Homo sapiens: one gene and its partner. The protein of the gene in region 2 purifies or fractionates together with the protein of the main gene of each other region. This does not show direct contact. Each region holds a gene or a part of one and is shown on either strand. Other genes may lie near its edges. The genes, in order: POLR3B and POLR3G.

The links.
Region 1: the proteins of POLR3G (region 2) and POLR3B fractionate together in Homo sapiens (co-fractionation; 4 studies listed by BioGRID and IntAct, with this or other methods). This does not show direct contact.

Annotation. Positions count from the first base shown.
Region 1 is NC_000012.12:106,430,532-106,442,790, reverse strand, and holds part of POLR3B (DNA-directed RNA polymerase III subunit RPC2), read right to left. Parts: intron 10,474-12,259; coding exon 10,311-10,473; intron 9,073-10,310; coding exon 8,919-9,072; intron 5,735-8,918; coding exon 5,660-5,734; intron 5,111-5,659; coding exon 5,012-5,110; intron 1-5,011. UniProt on the Homo sapiens protein: Catalytic core component of RNA polymerase III (Pol III), a DNA-dependent RNA polymerase which synthesizes small non-coding RNAs using the four ribonucleoside triphosphates as substrates.
Region 2 is NC_000005.10:90,481,923-90,494,181, reverse strand, and holds part of POLR3G (DNA-directed RNA polymerase III subunit RPC7), read right to left. Parts: intron 9,154-12,259; exon of another isoform or gene 8,658-9,153; 5' UTR 8,615-8,657; coding exon 8,498-8,614; intron 6,183-8,497; coding exon 6,053-6,182; intron 1-6,052. UniProt on the Homo sapiens protein: DNA-dependent RNA polymerase catalyzes the transcription of DNA into RNA using the four ribonucleoside triphosphates as substrates.

The DNA of each region.
Region 1 (12,259 bases), on a different chromosome or scaffold from region 2:
TTTTTCCCTCAAGTGTTTGTGAAGTGTAACCTTAAGAATTTCAGTGGTTTACAGCACCTGTGGACTGAAGTGATGTCCAAGAAACCACGTCCCAGCCCATCAATGGAATGTACCTGGTAAAAGATCTCCCACTTATCCAGTTATTAACCTATTTTTTTTTCCAAAACACATGTATTAAATTATGTCCCTAGTTTGGTGAGAGAAAGTGCCTTCCATGTGGTTCTTGGTTTGAAGAGTACTGTTTTCACCTTATGACCTAGCAGAACCCCAATCCTCTCAGACAAGCAGGAAGGGAAAAGACTTCCTTTGTTAAGCAGGAAGGGAAAATACTCTAGGTTTTGTTTTGCTTTTTTCTTTAAAGAACATCAGCTTATAGCTACATTTTATAGTCTAGAAGAAAACAGATTTTCTTTTAAATATACTGCTTTGTTTAAATATTGGCCAAGTTGACATTTTCCATCTAAGTAAAAACTACTTTTTCAGATGTTAACATTGGATTGAGTTGAAAAATGAAAAGAAATATCTGAAGTTTTTTTCTCTTATGGTGACAACATACATAAACTCACATAGTATCTAATAATTACTGGAAGTCCAAACACTCTAGATTCTGACTTTACAAAAAAAAAAAATTATTCTCTTTAAAATCATCAGTTTAGAAACTGAACAGGAATTGGGAGATTTCTTTCTTTCTTTCTTTCTTTTTTTTTTTTGAGGCGGATTTTCGCTCTTGCTGCCCAGGCTGGAGTGCAATGGTGCGATCTTGGCTCACTGCAACCTCCGCCTCCCGGGTTCAAGTGATTCTCCCACCTTAGCCTCCGGAGTAGCTGGGATTACAGACATGCGCCACCACACCCAGCTAATTTTGTATTTTTAGTAGAGATAGGGTTTCTCCATGTTGGTCAGGTTGGTCTCAAACTCCCAACCTCAGGTGATCTGCCTGCCTTGGCCTCCCAAAGTATTGGGATTACAGGCGTGAGCCACTGCACTCAGCCGAGATTTCTTATTCACTGTGTATAAAGCACTTAAATTTAGTTCGAATGAAAACTAAATAACCTGTTGTTTATAACAGTAGAAAAATTGGAAACTACCTAAATATTCAACAGTAGGAAACTAGTTAATAAACTAAATGTGTGTAGGTAGATAATGTAATAACAAATGGCAATTAAAAAAATATATATATGTATACAGTCACACACCACATAACATTTTGGTCAACAACAGACTGCATAAATGGTGGTGGTTCCAAACGATTATAATACTGCATTTTTACTATACCTTTTCTTTGTTTAGATATGTTTTGATACACAAATACTTACCATTGTGCTACAACTGCCTACAATGTTCAGTAGAGTAATATGCTGTACAGGTTTGTAGTCTAGAAGCAATAGGCTTTAGCATACAGTCTATGTGTGTAGTAGGTGACAGTGGGTGACAGACACCATCTAGGTTTGTTTAAGTACACTACGATATTCACATAATGAAATCACCTGACAACAAACTTCTCAGAACGCATCCCCATCATTAAGTGACATAAGACTGTGTATACAAATATACATGTATATAAATATATATACTAATATGGAAAATGTCCAGAGTATACTGGTTAAGTTTCAAAATCAAGGCACTGGAAATGTTATCACTGTTTTATACACACACATTGTGTGGAATCATGTGTGTATGTTTGTACTCAGAAAAAAAATCTAGAATAGTACATAAGAAATTATTAGCATCGGCAACTTCTGGAGGGTGGAGTCTGGTGGGATGGGAAAGGAAGGGGATTCATTCTTTGTACTTCATGCATTTCTATATTTTAAAAAACATAAGTATGAATTAAATAATACAAAAACTTCTAGATTTTTTAAATGAAATTAATTTGATGTATGGAATAGCTTGGTAATTGGGTAACGCTGAGAGTTATATTCATTTACATCAATGAAAAACCAGATGAAAATCCCTGCCTTCGTGAAGCTTCTAAGTGAGGGAAGATAGACAATACATAGATACATCAGTAAAATACCAATTTTACTCTATGGTAATAGGCACAAGAAGTAAAAAAAAAAAAAAAGTAGTAAAGAGGAGTGGATAGAGATAAGAGTTTCTACTTTCACTAGAGTGGTCAGAAAAATCTCACGAGAAGGTGACACCTAAGTGAAGACCTGGAGGGGGTGAAGCAGTGAGCCATGCAGGTATGTGAGAGAGTGCTCCAGGCAGAGGAAGCAGCCAGTGCAAAGGTGCTAAGGCAGAGGCACGCCTGGAGTGTTTGGAGAAGAGGCCAGTGTGGTTGAAACAGGGAGTGGGGAGAGGTAGAAATGGAAGTGGGCAGATTGTGCAGGAACTGGAAGGCTTCTGTAAGGACTTCTGAGGGAGACCGACAGCCCCTGAGGGATTTGAGAAGAGAACGGACATGCCCCCTCTGCTCTATTAGGAAAAGACTATATGGGAACAGGTGTCAAAATAGTCAGGAGGCCTTTGCAAAAATCCAGGTAAGACATACAAATGGCCTGGACTAGGTGATGGATTGAGGTAGTGAAAAAGAGTTCAGATTCCAGATGTATTTGGAAGGCTCATGTGATGAGCTAGGGATTGATGTCAATATAGAGAAAAAGGGTCAGGACGGAAATAGACAGTTTTGTTGGCTTGAGTAATACAACGATGGAACTGTCATTTATGGGGCTACTATAAAATAGTTTTCTTTTATACTCAGGATACATATCTATATCTATATTTTTTTTGAGTAAGGGTCTCACTCTCTCGCCCAAGCTGGAATGCAGTGGTGTTCCAAGTATAGCTCACTGCAGCCTCAAACTGTGCTCAAGTGATCCTTCCACCTCAGCCTCCCAAGTAGCTGGGATCATAGGTGCACACCACAACACTTGGCTAACTTTTTTTTATTTTTAGTAGAGATGAGGTCTCACTGTGTTGCCCAGGTTGATCTCAAACTCCTGAGCTCCAGCAACCCTCATGCCTTAGCCTCCCAAATTGCTGGGATTATAGGTGTGACCCACCACACCTGGCCCTCAGTCAATTTTGAAATGAGGGGTATAAAATAGCACTTTGAGAGATTCACATCTTTAAGGAAGAAAAATTCTGACCAAAAACCACTATTTACAAAGTGCAAAAAATATATATATTTGCAATATATATATTGGCAACAGGGTTTGCTTTGTCACCCAGGCTGGAGTGCAGTGGCATGAACATGGCTCACAGAGCCTCCACCTCCTGGACTCATGCAATCCTCTAGCCTCAGCCCCCTGAGTTACTGGGACTACAGGCGTACATCACCACACCTGGCTAATTTTTAAGTTTTTTGTAGAGACGGGGTCTTGCCATGTTACCCAGGCTGGTAAATTATAATCTTCTAAAAAGTAATATATTTCATTTGGTAGCAGAAAACAGAAAAGTTTTTCTTTTTCCTGTTTTAAGAGATAGGTTCTTACCCAGGCTGGAGTGCAGTGGCACAATCATAGCTCAGTGTAACCCATAACTCCTGGGCTCAAATGATCCTTCCACCTCAGCCTCCCAAGTAGCTAGGACTACAGGTGTGTGCCACTGTGTCCAGCTAATTTTTTATTTTTATTTTTAGACATAGGGTCTTGCTATGTTGTCCAGGCTGGTCTCAAACTCTTGGCCTCAGGCGATTCTCCTGCCTCAGTCTCCCAAAGCACTGGGATTATAGGGGTGAGCCATTACACTGGGTCAGAAAAGTACTTATTCTTGATTGAAGACATAAATAGTTATTAGGTGGTAGTATTAAACTCTCTAGCAATATATCTGCAAGAATTCCAATTTCAGGTAAGTGGTACATCAGTCACATGCATCAGACAGCAAGTTACATAGATGTTCTTTAATGTACTCTAAAATGGAACACAGATGCTTCTAAAAATATCATTGTTCAAGAAGAAATATTGTGAACATACTACCAATTCAAGTGCATACTGCACATAAACTTAGAGTTTTTGAACAGACTATGTAGAGAATTCCTGCACTGACAAGAATTCAGATGTCCATGGACAAAAATCATCTCTAACAGAGGTAAGTATATTTTTATACAGCTTGATTCATTAGTTCAACTTTGGCAGTAATCAAGTATTAAAATCAGAGAAGCAACTCCTTTTAAAAAATACACATTAAGGCTGGGCATGGTGGCTCATGCCTGTAATCCCAACTACTCAGGAGACTGAAGTGGGAGGATCACTTGAGATCAGGAGTTTTAAGTTTCACTGAGCTATGTTGTGCCACTGTACTCCTTCAGGGTGACAGAGCAAGACCTTGTCTCAAAAAAAAAAAAACATATATATGGTTTTATATACATATATATATATGGTTATCTATCTATATGGATATATGGATATATCTTTCTATGAGTGTGTGTGTGTATATATATAAACTGTCACACGAATAGGAAGGATAATTAAATCTAAAGATGACTTGTTAGCTGCTTTGTAATACTCTTCACTAGGATAAATGATGCGTTATGCTCTGCTATAAAATTGTATATTTCTTTATGGTACATACAGAAATATACAATATACATATATACCATGAAATACTATGCAGTCATAAAAAGGAACAAGATCATGTCCTTTGCAGAGACATGGATGAAGCTGGAAGCCATCCTCAGCAAACTAACACAGGAACAGAAAACCAAACACCGCATGTTCTCACTCACAGGTGGAAGCTGAACAATGAGAACACATGGACACAGGGAGGGGAACAACACACACCAGGGGGACTGTTAGGGGGTTGGGGGAGGAAGAGCATCAAGATAAATAGCTAATGCATGCTGGGCTTAATACCTAGGTGATGGGTTGATAGGTACAGCAAACCACCATGGCCCACGTTTACCTATGTAACAAACCTGCATGTTCAAACAAAAAAAAGAAGATTGTATATTTCTAACAGTTCCTGTCAAAAGAGTAAAAGATAGAAGGACTGAAGATGACAGTAAAAGAGAAGGTAGTTTCTATAGTCAGAACACGTTTTAATTATGGTTGCTATGGATCCTACTTACTTATTAATTGTGTGTTCGTACAGTGCAATGTTACAATCATTTTCTTCATTCACATCTAAATATTCAACCAGACTCTCATGTAAGAAATCTTCAAAATTCCTGGGAAAATATTGGTGAAAGAGACATCATTAAAAAGCATTTTTCTGCAGTATTTTATATAATAACAGGAGATACTGGCTTTCGTTTAGGCCCAAAGCACCTTTCTCTCCCAGAGAATATCATTACATTGGGATACCTGAAACATGTTATTCTTAGCTCACACAGTAACCACAAACTGCTGAAATAAAAACAGCAAAGTGTCTGTCTGTAACTCTTGTGAACCTAGTCCCCACTTCTTAAAAAAAAAATTCTGACCTTAGAAACCTCATAATGAGACCCACAGTGTCTACACTGACACATGATGTAAGTCCTTTTCTTACCAGAAACACTTACTTGTGTACTAACTGACATCAAGACTAGGTAACCCTCATGATCTAAATTGATGAATATTTTACAATGTCCAAGCAAGTTCACATGGAGCAAAATAGGTTTTTAACAGGCTGGTAATTTGGTGGAAAGAAATTAAAACACTAAAATGAAAATACACTTTTCTTAAATCATGTATGTGGGTATTAAGGAGATTGGTAAGTTTTACTTTTGGCTACTTACCTGTACCCTTGGGCCAGCTCTTCCATATGTTTATTTGTGACTGCTGGCTTCTGTTTCTTGACAATTATGTAGGGTCTAGAATGGAAACAGCAAACCAAATTAATAATAGTTCCAGGGAAAAATTACACAGGCAAGTTAGTTTACCAAAGTGAGATGAGGGAAGATGTAAATACAAACAAACCTATTCCTGGATTGCTGAGGACACCAGGTAATTTTTGTATGGATGAGCATGGTGTAGGGGACTATGCTCTCTCTCACATACACACACATACATACCCAAGCCCATGTGTACATGTGAGTATGTGTGGACATATTCATGCACACACACAGTGCTTCCTGCAAGTATCTTAGGAAACATTTGGTTTTGAATGAAAAGGCAACACAAAAATGATACTCAAAGTCTGAAAAGGAAACAAAACCTTTAATGCCATATTTTAAAAAACGGTGTAATGTATCAATCTAAAAACTTCCCGATTTCACATTGGAAAATTTTGCATACTACTCATGGAGTTAACAGGCAAAGAAGCACTGTCACCTAGGGTAATAACGGCGTTGTGTTGTGAGGTTCTGATGAATATCCAGATGTTTAGAGTAGTTTGATTTAGTCTAAACATCACTGAGCTAGGTTAGCAAGATACTTAAAGCTACACATTACCAAAGAGAGTGGCTAAAAGTTGGCAGAGAATGAAGCTTTCTTACTTTGTGGTTTTCAGTGACGTAATGGGTGGAAGGTGGAGAAGGCATTCTGGCAGATTAACCTGTAACTGTCAGTGGGGACTTGCCTCGGAGGGCTTTGCCACCATGAGGAAACCCGGACACAAAGGATGGCATGCGGCACTGAAACGTCAAGGGCTGTTGCTATTTGGATAAGCAGCTCTTACAGAGAGGAGCAAGTAACCACCAGACACTTGTGCGCTCTACCCTAAAGTCCAAATAACTATTTGAGGACTAATGAGCACTTTTCAACAGTTAAGAAGAGGAGCTGCACAATTACAAAAGGGGAACACAAGTTGTTGAAAAATGAACTGGGTGAGCTTTTCATGGAAATCCACAGTACCTCGAAATTCTGGCTCCTTCTTGGTAGGGAAGCAGAGCCTACTAATGCCTCATTTGAGCGCTGCAGTGGATTCAGGTTAAGCCTCAGATGAGAAGACAGAAACCGGCGGAGGAGAGGGAGGGGATCACATTTAGCTGCCTCAGTTATCCTTACGTTACTCAACGCATTCTACTATTTTTTCCTGCTAGATCTGTTATGCCATTATAAAGTTGCTTCTATAAAAGAGTTTTATTTTTGAATATATATTATGTTGGATGTAATGAAATCCTAAAAAAGAGTAACCTAGAAAATGTCACTGTTATTCCTGCCCTTAACTGGACCATGCTATTAAGTTATAAATAAGCACCTAATGTGTGCCTGGCACCCTACTGAGCACTTACCACACCTTCTATCAACTAGTTCTCAGGACAATCTTAGGCAGGCATTATTGTTTCCATTTTACAGCCAAGGAAACCAAGGCTGAGAGACTGAAGTAGTATACTCAGAGTCACACAACTCAGTAAGTGGGAAGTTAGGATTCAAACACAGGTATATCATCAGCTAACCATTCTTCGGTTGCAAAGAAGAGAAACCAATTCTGGCTAATTTAAGCAAAAATGAAGTTTACTGGAAGCATTAAGAATTTACAGGTGCTGGGTGCGATGGCTCACACCTGTAATCCCAGCACTTTGGGAGGCTGAGGTGGGTGGATCACTTGAGGCCAGGAGTTCGAGACCAGCCTGGCCAACACAGTGAAACCCCATCACTACTAATAATACAAAAAATTAGCCAGGGGCAGTGGTGTGTGCCTGTAATCCCAGCTACTGGGTCAGGGACGGGGGTGGGGAGCTGAGACATGAGAATCGCTTGAACCTGGGAGGCGGAGGCTGCAGTGACTCAAGATCGTACCACTGCACTGCAGCCTGGGTGACAAAGTGAGACTCTGTCTCAAAAAAAAAAAAATAATTTAATGGAAGGATAAGAATCAAAGAAAAAGGTGAAATGCTCAGCCTCAGAAAGAAAAGGAACGAGAGCAGTTCCAAGAATCCAGAAAATGAGGTTTAACAGGCAGTCTCTTGCATGTAGCACTGGGAGAATGAATCAAGTCCAACCACCTCCCTCCCTTGATTTATTTTACCTGGGATTCAAATTCTCTGATGAGGGGGTCTGACTGACCTCATTTGGGTCATATGCCCAACCCCTGGCTGAAGAGAAGAGGGTGCTGGACTGACCATCCCAAGAAGCCTGCCAATGGGGACAGGCAGTCCTCAAAAGAAAATGAGGTAGTGTCATATGAAGGAGGAAAGGATGCTGGAGGAAAGAAAGCATGCAGTCACTCTCCCAGCTCTGACAGACTTCCAGCTACTGCTGGCTCACTGCCTTGTGCTTCAACACTACCCGAGGTATACACAGAATAACTACGGTAATGCTAGAAAAGGCTTGTGACACAAGGCAATGTCCTCAGCTGATGTCTCTGCATAGCCCCTCAAACCAGACACCATGTCACATTCGTCTCTGTACCTCCGGCTCCTAGATAGTACCTGTGCACAATAGGCCCTTAATAAATACTTACTGAATGAATAAAAGGAACCTACTTTTCCATTGGATCTAGTGTTATTTTATTTCTTCATGCCTCCATGTTTTCATTCTTGCCTTTTTTCAGCCTTTCTCCTCCCCACCTACCTCCAAGTTAACACAATCCTACTCCTCCTTTAAAGCTCAGTTTGTAGCAACAGACTATAGTGGGCAAAATCATGCGTCAAACGAATCCTAAGGACTTTCAAATAAAAAACAGATTCCACCACTCTTTAGCTTTCAGTAAGTTACTTAGCCTCACTGAACCTCAGTTTCCTCATTTCTTAAATGACAAGAATAATCCAACCTCATAGGGTTGAATGAAGAAGTTAAAGCCTTACACATATAGTGTCTCCATTAAAATGACAAATGGTGGCTAGCATTAACCACTACCACAGTTGATTGTTATTAGTCATTTTTTCTGCCTTTCCCGGCAGACTGAGCTCTCTGAGGGCAGACTCTGTCTCCCATTAATCTGAATCCTCGGTACCTAATATGCATATTCATGAAGTGTTTGCTCACGGAATTAAATTTATCTTCACAATGAAAGAGGTTAAAACAGTTTCAAAAATAAAAACAAGTCTATTTCTTTCAAGAGCAAATATAAAGAGATTCTTAAAAACTCTTTTTAGTAACCTGCATATATACCTGCATAGCCTTCCCCCATCAGAAGAAATATAGACACATCGATCTGTAAGATTTGTTGAGATGGAAACAAATTCATTGATATATCCTGCTCTTCTCATGAGTCGAAATGTATTCACTAGCTTTTTGTGGTCTCGAATGACACCTAAGATGTTACCTAGGCAAAAAGAAAGAACAGGTAAGACAGAAATAAAAAATAAATGCAACCTGATTTAATATATCCAACCAATAAAAATAGTAATCAGCACTAAGCAGTTATTTGAAAATACCATTATTAACACCTGCAGCCAGTCCACAAGGTTGCAGGGAAGCAACAAAGGAAGAATGCTTAAGGGCCAGTCCTTCCACATGCAGGCTGAGGAATACTGGAAAAGTCAGCTTCATTTTCCTCATCTTTCAGCACAGTGCTGGGGCATGAACTTGGGGTCCAAACAACCTGGGTTTGAACACTGGCTCCATCACTTCCACAGGCTGGCAGTAAAGGTTAAACGAGCTGATCATTTAAAGTACTGAGAATTCTGCCTAGCACCTACTAACTGCTATTATTAAACTGCTTCTTGTTGTAATCAACATTTGTGAAATGAGGAAAATGAACTTTGCTTCCCAAGGTTAGCGGGAGGATTCAAAGAGGCACTGGGTGAAAGTGCAGAGTAAAAGCTCACTCAATGTTAGCCTCTGGGATACAATGAACTAGGCAGTCAGTTAACAGCCCTGCTGAGGCTCTGACCCCTTCCTCACCAGCAGATATAAAAAAGAGTTAATGCCTCCTAGAATGAGAGGAAGGGGGAGAGGAAGAGAGAACAGACAAGTGATAAGGGATAAGCTCATGGAGCATACTAGGGAGAGAACAGGCACACAGCACCAAATCAAAAGCAGAAAGGAAGAGAGCACACTTGCTGCTAAGTCTCTGGAAGACTTCGAAGGAGACGGGAAGAGGTATATGAAAGAAATAACTGGAGTGTGAGCCAAAGGAGAGGGATCCTCTTATCACAGGCTGCTGACATATTGATTATCAGATGGCTAGACAAAGTCAATTCATTATAAGAGTTGATCTGATAATTTTTGCAGAATGACTCCAATATTTGACTTGTACTTAAAGATACCATGTTGAACCGTATTCCACTAAGGATATGCCAGCAACTGCAAAAGGGGAGAAAGCAGCCACTTTCTGCAAAGTTACCCTTTAGCTCTGATAGCTATATCCTCTCAGAACCTTGGATAACCCAGCCAACAAAGTAACTGTTTCTGTTATCATTGTATTTTCTACCTTTAAGTGAAGGTCAACCTGGGCCCAGAATTAAAGTCTATCTGTGCTTTAAATACCAGGATAATAATGGATTCCCTCCCCCTCTTCACAGACTATCTAGGACCAACATGTCTCTATAATATACCCACCATTAAGAAAGACAAGAAACACATTTGGGTAAGAGAGCTCTTCCCCACATAATAAATTCACATCTTCTACTCCCAAGTTACTGGCTAATTTAACAATGGGTCCATCTTCCATATCAGTTGTGATGTGTGTCATAAGGGCCAAGTTTTTAACCAAACCACATGCCTAAAAAACAAAAGATGGTCATTTCTAAGAATGAACATTAGTAATACAAAGTACAGTTTACATCTGAAAATAGCTCACTACTTTGCTGGCAGCAATGCAAAGCAGTACAACTTTGTAGGGGATACTGTGGTGATTCGCACAAATGCCTTTAAAAAATATATATATCCCTTAACTCAGGGGAATTTCTCTTCATAACAAGCAAGGATATAAAATAGATTTAGATACAGAAATGCTCAGCACAGTACTATTTGTAATTGTAAATGCTGACGACATCATAAATGCCCAACAAAACTGATTACATTAACAATTACTCCCAGACATTGGAACATTACAGTCATTATGATGACATTGTATAAAATAAGTAAAGGAAAACATTAATAAATGCAGCTACATAAAAATATAAAACTTCTGGCCTGAAATGAGAGACTGTATAAAATAACTGGCCAGTGCCCTTAAGTTTCTTGGTCACGAAAGGTAAATAAAGACAGACTGAAAAACTCTTTCAGATGAAAAGAGACAAGGAGACATGACAACTAAAAACAATGTGTGATTCTGGATCAGAAAAAAGACAACAGTGGGACAACTGGCAAAATTTGAATAAGATCCATAGATTATAGTATTGTTCAATGTCATGAGGCTGATAACAGTGCTATGGTTACATAAGATGTTCACAGTTGGGAATCTAGATGAAAGATTGTGGAAAATCTTTGTACCAGTTTCATCACTTTTTTGTATATCTAAAATTATTTCAAAATGAAAAGAAAAGAAATCTTTTTAAACATCTATGCAACCCGGTACAGTTCTAAAACAAAAATACCAACAAGGACAGAATATAGCAAATAGGAAAAAAATACTTAAGACAGGTGACTTGTAAGATTGTATCTTCAGGTCTTAGAACCATCTGCTGCAGTAATGTACAAAATAGCTACTTTTTTGAAGTTAGCTGAAGCAATCTCTGGGAAATGAAATGTTTCAAAGTTCAAGATATATAAATTATGCAAAATTTGACAAACTGGATAATTTTAGTGTCAATTTCCATATGGTTTAAGATAAATTAAATAGTTTCTAAAAATCGCAGCTCTATACAGACTCCTATTTTCATCTCTTCCAAATAATAAATTCCTACACTTTGGACCCTACATCTTTTACTTGTTGTAATTATTAATTCAGCATATATTCATGGGGCCTGTACTCTAACCAAGGCTCTATGTTAGGAGCTTGAGATACAATGGTGAACCTTCCTTCCTCCAGAATTTTACAATTTAGAAGGAATAGAATCAAGTGAAACTAACAATGTTAACACAAAGGAGAAAGGACCGTGACACAGGGAGTAGCGGGTGCTATAGAAGTAAACCCATGTAAACTCCCTGGCTTGATGTTTAGGCAATTGCTTGTGTTTCCAATATAAGTGAGTCAAAATCCACATTAGGTCATGGACTGTATACTCCTAATTGGCTGTGACTGAGCCTACCTAAGGACAATAAGGAGCTGCTCAAAAAGAGCCCCTCATGAGCATGAGAGGTGGTAGGTCTTTCAATCTGCCTTCACAGTCTTATCCCCTCTGTGCATGTTTTGATTTTGGGATAAACTAAAATAATAAAGAGAAACATGGACTATATTACTTTTAGCTAACATACTGAATCAAATGCTTCTGCAGGTCCTAGTTTTAGAATGATACTAATGTAGTCTTCCAAGCATGTCAATATTTATTTGCCAGATAAATGACAGACCAAAGAAAGGATATGGCCTGGAGATGGGAACAGAAGCAGACCTCCCCACCCCACCC
Region 2 (12,259 bases):
AGAAGCCAAAGACACATGTTACATCATTCCATTTATATGACATGGAATCTCTAGAGACAGAAAGCAGATTTCTGGTGCCATGGGTTGGAAGGAGGGAGAGTAGGGAATGACTACTAAAGGGTACAGAATTTCTTTTCTAGATGATGAAAAGCATCTAAAAAATTAGATAGTGGCTGGGCACAGTGGCTCACACCTGTAATCCCAGCACTTTGAGAGGCTGGGGCAGGTAGATTGCTAATAGGTCAGGAGTTCAAGACCAGCCGGGCCAACATGGTGAAACCCCATCTATACTAAAAACACAAAAAAATTAGCCATGTGTGGTGGCACGTGCCTGTAATCCCAGCTACTTGGGAGACTGCGGCAAGAGAATCACTTGAATCCAGGAGGTGGAGGTTGCAGTGAACTGAGATAATGCCACTGCATTCCAGCCTGGGTAACAGAGCAAGACTCTTGTCTCAAAAAAAAAAAAAAAAAAAAAAAAAAAAAAAAAAAAAAAAAAAAAAAATTAAATAGTGGTGTTGATTGCACAACTCTGTGGCTATATTAAAAGTCACTGAATTGTACACTTTAAAAAGTAAATTTTATATAGTGGATTATGTCTCAGTAAAGCTGTTACTTAAAAATCAATAAAACTAGGCCCAACACAGTGGCTCAGGATGTAATCCCAGCACTTTGGGAGGCCAAGGCAGCTGGATCCCTTGAGTCCAGGAGTTCGAGACCAGCCTGAGCAACATGGTGAAACCCCCATCTCTACAAAAAATGCAAAAATTAGCTGGGCATGGTAGCTCATGCCAGTGGTTCCAGCTACTTGGGAGGCTACGGTGGGAGGATCACTTGAGCCTGGGAGGTGGAGGCTGCAGTGAGCTGAGATTATGCCACTGCATTCCAGCCTGGGTGACAGAACGAGATCCTGTCTCAAATAAAAATAAATAAATAAAGTTATTGGAGATTTTACTAAGCAATTAAGTATAGCAAATCCAAATTTATATTACATGTTTTACTGATTTTGAAGGTAAATTTAACCAAAATGGGCAAAGTCATTTGAATGCAGTTTTCTGTGCATCGGCTGCCACATACAAACCTAGAATATATGCCTTCTGTACGTCCTGATCCCAGATTCCAAAGACATCTTTAATAGGTTCTAACTTATAATTTCCTCTGGTTTTCTCATATGTGTATCATCTAAATAATTTCAGATTATAAATGCATTTCTAGTAGAATCTAGCTTATCACTACTTCCAATTCTTCTTCTTGTACTTACATATCCAAAATGCAATACTTTAAAAAACTTTGATGTCTCATACTTTTTTTTTTTTTTTTTGAGGCGGAGTCTTGCCCAGGCTGGAGTGCAGTGGCACAATCTCGGCTCACTCCCAGGTTGACTCCACTCTCCTGCCTCAGTCTCCCGAGTAGCTGGGAGTACAGGTGCCCTCTACCACGCCTGGCTAATTTTTTGTATTTTTAGTAGAGACGGGGTTTCACCATGTTAGCCAGGATGGTCTTGATCTCCTGACCTCGTGATCCACCTGCCTCAGACTCCCAAAGTGCTGGGATTACAGGGGTGAGCCACTGCGCCCGGCTGATGTCTCATACTTCTATTGAAGAGAGGATGGCCCAGCCATCTTCTTTGCTCTATACTTGCAAAATATTTTCATTATTAAATTTATAATCACCAGTTAACACAATCAATCCAGAAAACAATTTCATGTCTATATAATCAATTTCCTTTCAATCATTGTTGTCTTTGCCTTTATGTTCAGCATTTGTCAGTTACAAAACACATCAAATTAATTTTGGTGCACAAATATCATAGAACAAAAATGATCGTCTCATTTTAGCAAACAGGATGTTCCAGGTTTTTGTTACAAAGTATTACATGATGAGTTCTTTTTCAAAGATTGACTGTAGAAGGCCACCATAATTCCTTTTTAATTCTTGGAGATACAGTGTTTACTCATTGATTCTTGAATTTGAGAAAATTCATTGAAGACACTGTCATCTGAAGACTCACAGTCTGAGATTTTGCTTATACAATCAATTTCATCATCATCATGAGCATCCAGAGAGCTATCTATCTCTTTGCATTTGACTTCTGATTCGTCTAAGAATTGTGGAACATGTTTTTCTGTCAATTTTAGACATTATGAGCAAAAAATTAAAAATTTTTGAAATTTTCAATTGTATTAAATGAAAATTAAAACAGAGCAACTACAAACATAAGAGTCTCTGAAGACTTTATAACTTCTTAAAAAACAGATGTAATGCTTTGGACAACACCATAGGAAAACTATATGATGACATAATAGTGATAATTTATTTGAATTGCACAGTCAATTTCATCATTCTCCCATTTTTTAAATTTATTCTTTTTTTCAGCATAGTGGGGAATGTCTGATGAATAGTGATGAGATAATATGTATGATGATAAAGTAGCAAGGTATTTCAATATAGAGAAAAAATAAGATCACTCAGATTCCATAATTATTTTAGATATATAAAAGGGTCCAATGGGCTGATATGGTATTCTATGATAAAATGAGTTTTCCTTTTTAAGAAAATGTCTGTTTCTTCTTTAGAAAACCTCTATGCAAGAATAAAAGTTATCAATATTAATCATACAAACAATAAGAACTGCTCCAAAAAAAAAAAACGTCAAAAATTTATATTGGGTCTCATGGACACTGATGGTATATCAAGAATTAGTAAGCCAAATTCCATTTATTCAGTAACAGACCTGTGGATGTATTTAAGTAAATGTATAATTTCCATTAAGCTTTGAGGTTCTGAAAATGACTTATGACACTATCACCACTGTCAGAATCATGTTTCTACTTCAGAGGACCCTGTGGTTCAGGAACCTGAGCTGGGAACCACTAGACTAGACGATCTCTTATAGCTAAAATTCACTAAAATAATATTCATTGGTGTTTTTCCTTTATTATATAAATAACAAATTTCGATGCAAAGAAAATACTAATCATTTCTATAATCCTACCTGAAAACATTAAAAACAAACTTTGAAGACATCGCAACATGAAATATGTTCATTCCATGCCATCAGTTCTTGAGGACTGATCTCAATGCCCTGAGCCACCAGCCACTTGACTATCAGGAAGTCTTGAGATCTCTCACCCTATTTGTCTGTCCTAGTGTCTAGTGATTTAGTTCTTTACAGTAGCCCTTAAGTCTCTGTTTCCTAAAGCACACAGGTGGTAAGTGATGCACCTGGCGAAGGTACAGTCATGCAACATCTCTATCCGGAATATGATTCTCTCTGACAGTAGGGTCGTTCTCTTCAGTCTGGCCAATTCTTTTTCACTCATAGCATGGATATTATATAAATTTATGTATGCACATATATACACATATTATATAAACCTATATAGGCACATATAAATGTATATATTTTATAGAAAAACCTTTATTTTTAACATGCGTGTGTTTTTTAAACACTATATCAGGAAACAGAGGTAAGCTGGGTGCGGTGGCTCATGCCTGTAATTTCAGCACTTTGGAAGGCCGAGATGGGAGGATCACTTGAAGCCAGGAATGTGAGACCAGTGTGAGCAAAAAAGCAAGACTCCCGTCTCTACAAAAAAAAAAAAAAAAATTAAAAGTTAGCCGGGCATGGTGTGTGCGCCTGTAGTCCCAGCTACTCAAGAGGCTGAGGTGGGAGGATCACTTGAGCCCAGGAGTTTGGAAGCTGCAGTGAGTTATGATTGTCCCACTGCACTCCAGCCTGGGTGACAGAGCGAGACCTCATCTCCAAAATAAAATATAAAACAATAAAATAAAAAAAGACAGAAGTAAACATGAAGATCTCAGGGAGAATGTACTTGTATCAATTTGGAAATTTCTATACAAGAGTTTTCCCCTGAAAGAAATAAAAGCAAAAAAAAAAAAAAAACCCTTATATTTTGAAATACTTTATTGCATAGTTATCAAAGATAAAGTGCCCCTTAATCCAAGTACTAGCCAACCACTCCCATAGACCAACAACAAAATTATGTTTTTAATATCCCTGTCTAAAACACTCACATAAATGCTTTAATTATATGATATACTTTTTTTTTTTGAGACAGAGTCTCACTCTGTCACCCAGGCTGCAGTGCAGTGACATAATCTCAGTTCACTGCAACCTCCACCTCTCGGGTTCAAGCAATTCTCCTGCTTCAGCTTCCTGAGTAGCTGGGATTACAGGAATGCACCACCATGCCTGGCTAACTTTTGTATTTTTAATAGAGACAGGGTTTTCCCATGTTGGCCAGGCTGATCTCGAACTCCTGACCTCAGGTGATCTGCTTGCCTCAGCCTCCCAATGTGCTAGGATTACAAGAGTAAGCCACCGTGTCCAGTCTGATTTGACATACTTTTAAATTAGACATGTGCTTTAATAACAACCACATTCACCTAAGTGCATCTGTGTCATAGAGAAAAGATCAATTTTAAAAGCACTAAAGTATACCCTGCATTACTATTTTTTCTAATAAGAATGAATACTGATTAGTTCATTTGGTCTTACTTTTTAAAATCTTTAAAATGAAAAGTTTTATTTTAGAACTCAAACAGACGAAAGCATGCAACATCATCATGAGAGTTAAAAATTTCAGTATTAGGCCGGGCATGGTGGCTCACGTCTGTCTGTAATCCCAGCACTTTGGGTGGCTGAGATGGGCAGACCACTTGAGGTCAGGAGTTCAAGACCAGCCTAGCCAACATGGTGAAACATCTCTATTAAAAATACAAAAATTAGCCGGGCATGGTGCTGTGCGTCTGCAATTCCAGCTACTCAGGAGGCTGAGATGTGAGAATCACTTGAACCCAGGAAGCGGAGGTTGCAGTGAGCCGAGATTGTACCACTACACTCCAGCCTGGGTGACAAGAGTGAGACTCCATCCCATTTCCAAAAAAAAAAAAAAAAAATTAAGTATTTTTGAGATAAAATATTTCTTATCAAACCATTATATAACTTAAAGCAGCTATGTTTTGAGAATTAAATGAATTTGTCTAAAATGCTTCCTATAATTATAAGCACATGCTAAGATCATTACATAAGGCTTCCTTTTTTGACTCAGCCAATTCAAACTATTCTAGAGAGAGAGGAAAAATGGAATGCATTTTTAATACGAATGGAATGAGATGACACTACGAATTTCTCATGTTTTAATGATGTTGTTTTGAGAACTCAAAGATGATATCAGTCTCTCTAATCTCAACAATCAAGGGCAGAAAGTGAAAAATCAATATAGTACTGCTGTGCTAAACAGCTACTCAGGAATGGTTTCCTTTCCTATAAAACCACTTCCCACTTCTAGCCTGAGACTGTTGAGCCCTCTCCAACTATAATGTTTCCTTTCTTCCCTAAGCAGCACCAATGAATACATATTTTACATCATATCAAACACCTAAATGATAAACCAAACAAAATTAAGTCTCAAAAATTTTTTTAACCTAAATATTAAATAATCAGAGACATGCATAAAGGTTTATGTATAATGATAACAATCACGGCATTATATATACAAGCAAAAAACTGAAAATAATATTTAAAAAGCAGGAAATTAGTTACAGTTAATAATAATATATCCACAGAGTAGACTACCAGTCATTAAAAGTCATGTTTTCCAAGAATAATAAGGATATGTGAAAATGCTAATATGCTACTGAGTGAAAAAAGGAAGATACAAAGTAATGTGAATCTAATTTTGTAAAGAGAATATACATGCATAAGAAAAAATCTGGAATATATACTAAAATATTAATAGTGGTTCTCTAGACATAAGAATGGGTAATTTTTACTTTTTAAAATTTTCCTGTTTTTCATAATTTTCACTGAACATATAAAATTATAATGAAAGATATTTCTAAAAATAAAATATCAAAAAGTTTAAAGTATTTTTTCTGTTAAAGCAACATAAATAGCTTTTTCAAAGTAGTTGATAATTTTTTATTGAATCGAATCAATCAACATTAAATGATTATATATCTTGTGCTTAAACACTGTTTCATCTGTATACATTAAGCCACATAATCAAAGACTCCAATACAGTACCTTGTCTTTCTTCAGGTGTTTCAATAAAATAAGGCATTCTTTTCATTGTTTCTCTCAACTCCTGTTTCAAAGCCAGCATATATTCTTCACCTTCTCCTGTTTTCAGTGGCACTGGTTTATAATCTGTATCCTGTTTAAATTAAGAGACAAAGATTTTTTTCAAATCAATTATGTATTTTAATATCCCTTTTATCTGTATTATAGAAAACAGCAGTTTTATTGAAATACTATGTTTTACAGGCACTAAGTTTTACAACCAACTTAAAAGATGAACTTCTGTAGTCTATTTAACCTGTTAACCCATTTCCTACTTTGCTCTTCTATTAGAGGTAAGAAAGATGCGTAATTTTCCTATTGGCCCTGAAAACTACACCAATAATCATTTTGCCAAACAGTCTGTTGACCTATGTGATTATCTACTTTAAAAATTAAAGTACCAGGCCGTGCATGGTGGCTCACGCCTGTAATCCCAGCACTTTGGAAGGCCGAGGCAGGTGGATCACGAGGTCAGGAGATCGAGACCATCCTGGGTAACATGGTGAAACCCTGTCTCCATTAAAAATACAAAAAATTAGCCGGGCATGGTGGCGGGCACCTGTATTCCCAGCTACTCGGGAGGCTGAGGCAGGAGAATGGTGTGAACCCGGGAGGCGGAGCTTGCAGTGAGCCAAGATCGCGCCACTGTACTCCAGCCTGGGTGACAGAGCTAGAGTCCGTCTCACAAAAAAAAAAAAAAAAAAAAAAAAAAAAATTAATGTACCAAAAAAAAAAAGAAAAACTAAGGTACCCAAATGAGAGCAGCTGCTTTAGGTTCTTATTAACCTCAGCTAGTGGTGGTATTATTGGAAAAAAATAAATAAATAAAAAAGCAGCAGCTATCATTTAGTAAGTGGTTGCTATGACTACAATATACTCAATATCCAACATCCAGTATCTCATTGAAAGGGCTACCAATATTTATCCTTTTACAGTGAAGAAATTGAGAAGTGAATAAATGGCAAGATGGAGTTTGAAGCTGCATTTCAAGTTTTAAAAATTATACACACACATACATATACACAAATACGCGTTTGTATGTGTGTATATATTTACACAAATATGTTCATTAACAAGTGGATCTCCAGGGTACCTAGTAAAGACATTTCTGATTTCAGAGGATAAAGATAAGGTACATTTTCAAAATTTGATTAGGAATGTATACATTCATGCTGCAACTACTTATTGAGTACTCAACATGTTTAGACTATGGAGGATACCATGATAAATAAGTCAAAGTCCCTGCCCACAGGGAACTTACATTCTAGGAGAGCAACATACAACAAATTAGTAAACAAATGAGGTGACATACAATTTCACATAGTGACAAATGACATAAAAATAAATGAAGGTGGGTAAAGGAAAAATGACTGACAGTGCATGGAGGATGGAGGTGGAATCTATGCAGGGTGAGCATGCCTGGCCTCTTGGGGAGGTCACATTTGAGTAGAGATTGGGATAAAATCAGGGAGCCATCCATGCAAAGAGAAGAGATGGTTCCAGCAGAGAACCAGCAGGGCCAAAGGCCTGAGGACCCAAGGAGACCTGCGTAGCTGGGGAATGAGGACAGTGGTAGAAAAAGGGTCAGAGAGACATCAGAACGGAGAGATCGGGCAGAGCCTTTTACCCAGTAGTAAGGAATTTTAATTTTATTCCAAGTATAAAGAAATACTATGTACTAACATCCCCAGTGTTTAGAGGTAATCTCCTCACACATGGAAAAGAGCTTGTTTTTAAAAGCACTGTAAAGTGACATTATGCCAATACCTGAGATATTTGTCTTTGTTTTTATGCTGCGCTGAATATCAAAAAGGTAAAATACCAAGAGCAAAACGCAGAGACTCCTTGTGTGATACATCTAGATCCCTGGATACATTCTAAACTAAACATAAAGCGAAAACATTATATATTATGGAAATTAAGCTTGCAGCATACTCACTAAATTTTAAAACAACACTAAAATAAGCAAAAAAAGTTCAGTGGGGGAAAAAGTCAAGTGGTATACTAAGGAGCAAACTTAAATTCTATAGATACAAGATAAGAAAATCATTAAGTGAAGGTGTGATAGGGTGCGAACTGAGAACCATTATAAAACCTAATGACTTTTAAAACTATTATTTTCATATTGGAATTTATCAATAACACCAATACAAGTTGTAAGAATTGAAAACTAATTCTTTACTGGTTCACATAGTACTAAATATATTCATGGAAAGATGTATACAGTTTTGTTTTCTATATTTTAAGAAAGCAGATCATGAAAATATTTAAAGGTAAGTGAAACACACTCTCCTTTACTTTCTTATACTTGAGGATGCTATAATCATACATCCAGTCCCATATAGAATTTTAATATTCTCTGAAAAATGAAAAAACACACTATGAGAATTCAACTGTTCATATACTTACAGGAAATAGTGGGGGTGGTTTCAACACTACATCAGGTAACTTTTCACCTTTGCTAAATCCAACAGCCTCAATATTAAAGGTATAAGCAGCACGTCCTCTTCCTTTATTCCCAGCCATCAGAACCAGTTATACCAGATGAGTGGGCAAATTCTGAAAGGCACTATTAATGATTACGATTTACTGGATCACATATAAAAAAGAAATCAACACTTTAAAGCAAAATATAAAACTGCACCCCTTAAGTAGCACAGTTGACTTAAAATACTTTTGGAAAGCAAAACATGTACACAAATAAACATGTGACAACTGACTGTTGAACTGCTCACACTCACACACCTCTGGCAGGTAAGATAATGATGGCTTCAACCCCCTCACCCACTACTGCCCCACATCCAGTCCACGCAATTCACCCACCCTTCTGTGGTTTGGCAGTAGGATCTCAGATGTAATGTACATAAAAAGTGGACACAAGACAAGACCAGGCTGATGAGGAGAAGAAATCTTTCATGTCAACATAAAAACTATCATTAGTCATATATACTTTAAGACTTTAAATGATTTATCTTAGCATGTGAGTGTTTGGAAGAATCCCTGAGATCTAGTCCAATGTCTTCCTTCTAGAAATGGGAATGGGATCAATGAGACTCGAAAGATGCCTGTCCAAGAAAAAAAAAATTCAGAGAAAAACAGTTAAAATCATTAAAGTTATGATAAACCTGTACTCTTCAATTTTGGAGACAGGAGTGATATCACATATGCAAGTTGTATTGAACGTTTGAATCCTCTGATTATACTATGAGAACTGAGCTGCCAATGTATAAACAGGGATCCCTACGCTAGAGTTCTTTCAATAGAAGTCTGCATTCAACTGTAGTGATGATTATAATGCACATTCTTTACATTTCTTTCCCTGCTGATAATACTGAGCCTCATTTAACCCCTTGAACCCAAGAGAGAAATGGTATGTCCCCTGGACCACTCGGAGGAAGTCAGAGGAGTGGCATTGGTTTTGGCCCCATCAGCTCAGTCTCATTTCTGAATCTACTCACTTGCCCTCCTTGCAAAATTATGCAAGCCACAGTACTTCACACAGCTGCTCTACTCTTCACCAGGGTTTCTTGCCTGGTCATTAATGTTACCCTTCTTAGTCTACCACATTAATGGTGAAGGAACACTACGTAAAACCAACAAGGTGCTACGTCTTTATATCAATTTTACTGTCTACAATTTGAATATAGGCACTATTTTGGACCAAAAGGCTGAAAACTCCCAGCTCACTTTATCACAGGGCCAACACTACAAAGCAAGCGGCTCTCAGTTCTCAACCCTGGCTGCCATTAGAATGACTTGGGTGGCTTAAGAAACTAGAGCAATGGTTCTCAAAGAGTGCTGTCTGCAGCAGCATCACTCAGAACTTGGTAGAAATGCAAACTGTGAGTTCCACCACAGACCTAAAGAAAAAAGAAACTGTGAGTGGGCCCAGCACTGGTGTTTTAAGAAGCCTTCCAGATAATTCTATGTATGCTAAGTTCTGTGAATCACTGAACTGAACCAATCAATCCAGATCTCTTGGGGTGAGGATTGGGCAAGAGTCAGTTTTAGAAGCTTCCCAGGTGATTCTAATACACAGCAAATGTTAAGAGTATTGGTAGAACTGTTTTGGTGGAAGTCTTAGCTACTAAGGAGTAGTTGAGTTAAAATACACATGTAGAATCAAGGACTTCATAGATCTCATCTTTGAGGTTTAAAATTATAAAATTAGCCTTAGCAACTTAAAAATATTTGCCTTAAAGGTAAGATAACTATAATTGCTGTAAATCTATGTAACACTCAGGATGTGGCAGTCCAAGTTTTAATTCATTTGCAAGGAATAGCAGTAACAAGGCATTGCACTTTTAGACAGCCAATTTAATTTTTTAAATATTTTATTTATTTATTTTTTTCACTGCAACCTCCCTCCCTCACTTAAGCAATTCTCCTGTCTCAGCCTCCTAAGTAGCTGGGATTATAGGCGCGCACCACCATGCCCGGCTTATTTTTTTAGTAGAGACGGGGTTTCACCATGTTGGCCAGGTTGGTCTCAAACTCCTGACCTCAAGTGATCTGCCTGCCTCGGCCTTCCAAAGTGCTAGGATTATAGGCATGAGCCACCGTGCCCGGCCAATGGCACCCTGCCAATGATGGCCAATTTTAATGTCCTTCTACATTTAAGGCCCCAGAAGCAAATCATATATTCAACATCTTTATGTAATGAAACATCGTTTCCTGTTTTCTGTGAATTACTCAAGTAGAATGCACGGCATTTGATTTGACATAATGGCTATGATACTGAGAACATTTTCAGATATGATTTTGTAACTGCCCAAGGCGTTCACCCTGCCTGCTGTCTGGACAGAGCTGATTTATCAAGACAGGGGAATTGCAATACAGAAAGAGTAATTCACACAGAGCTGGCTGTGCGGGAGACCGGAGTTTTATTATTCCTTAAATCAGTTTCCCCGAAAACTCGGAGATCAGAGATTTTTTTTTTTTTTTTTTTTTGAGACGGAGGAGTTTCGGTCTTGTTGCCCAGGCTGGAGTGCAATGGCATGGTCTCCGCTGACTGCAACCTCCGCCTCCCGGGTTCAAGCAATTCTCCTGCCTCAGCCTCCCGAGTAGTTGAGATTACAGGCGTGCGCCACCATGCCTGTCTAATTTTGTATTTTTAGTAGAGACGGGGTTTCTCCATGTTGGTCAGGCTGGTCTTGAACTCCCAACTTCAGGTGATCCACCCGCCTTGGCCTCCCAAAGTTCTGGGATTATAGTTGTGAGCCACTGCGCCCAGCCAGAGATCAGAGATTTTAAAGTTAATTTGGTGGGTAGGGGGCCAGTGAACTGGAAGCGCAGATAGGTTGGCTCGGGGATGAAATCATAGGAAGTCAAAGCTGTTCTCTTCTGCTGAGTCAGTTCCTGGGTGGGGGCCACAAGATCAGAAGAGTCAGTTAATCGATCTGGGTAGTGCCCCCTGATCCATCAAGTGCAGGGTCTGCAAAATATCTCAAGCACTGATCTTTGGAGTGGTTTAGGGAGGGTCAGAATCTTGTAGCCTCCAGCTGCATGACTCCGAAACTATAATTTCTAATCTTGTGAATAATTTCTTAGTCCGACAATGGCAGTCTAGTCCCCAGGCAAGGAGGAGGTTTGTTTTGGGAAAGTCTGTTATCGTCTTTGTTTCAAACCATAAACTAATTTCCTCCCAAAGTTAGTTCAGCCTATGCCCAGGAATGAACAAGGACAGCTTAAAGGTTAGAAGCAAGATGGAGTCACAGTTAGGTTAGATCTCTTTCACTGTCTCAGTCATAATTTTGCAAAGGTGGTTTCACGCCCAAGAATGAACAAGGACAGTTCAGAGGTTAGAAGCAAGATGGGATCAATTAGGTCTGATATCTTTCACTGTCATAATTTTCTCAGTTATGACTTTTGCAAAGTTGGTTTCAATCCCTCCCTTTGGGTTTCATAGTTTTACATTATTCATTTCGTAAATTTATCCCTGCAGGCCTCCATATTTGAGTTTTCCTTCATAACTGCTTGAACACTAAAAGTTGATTTGTCATCTTTAATGTTGTCGTTTTAAACTACAAGTCTATGCCTTTTTTGGTTTACTAATACTTACATTTACTATACTTACATGCACAAAAGTCAGTATATTAAATCTCCATATACCCACTACTCAGCTTCAAAATTATCCGTATATGACTATTGTACTTTAACTATACTTTTCTA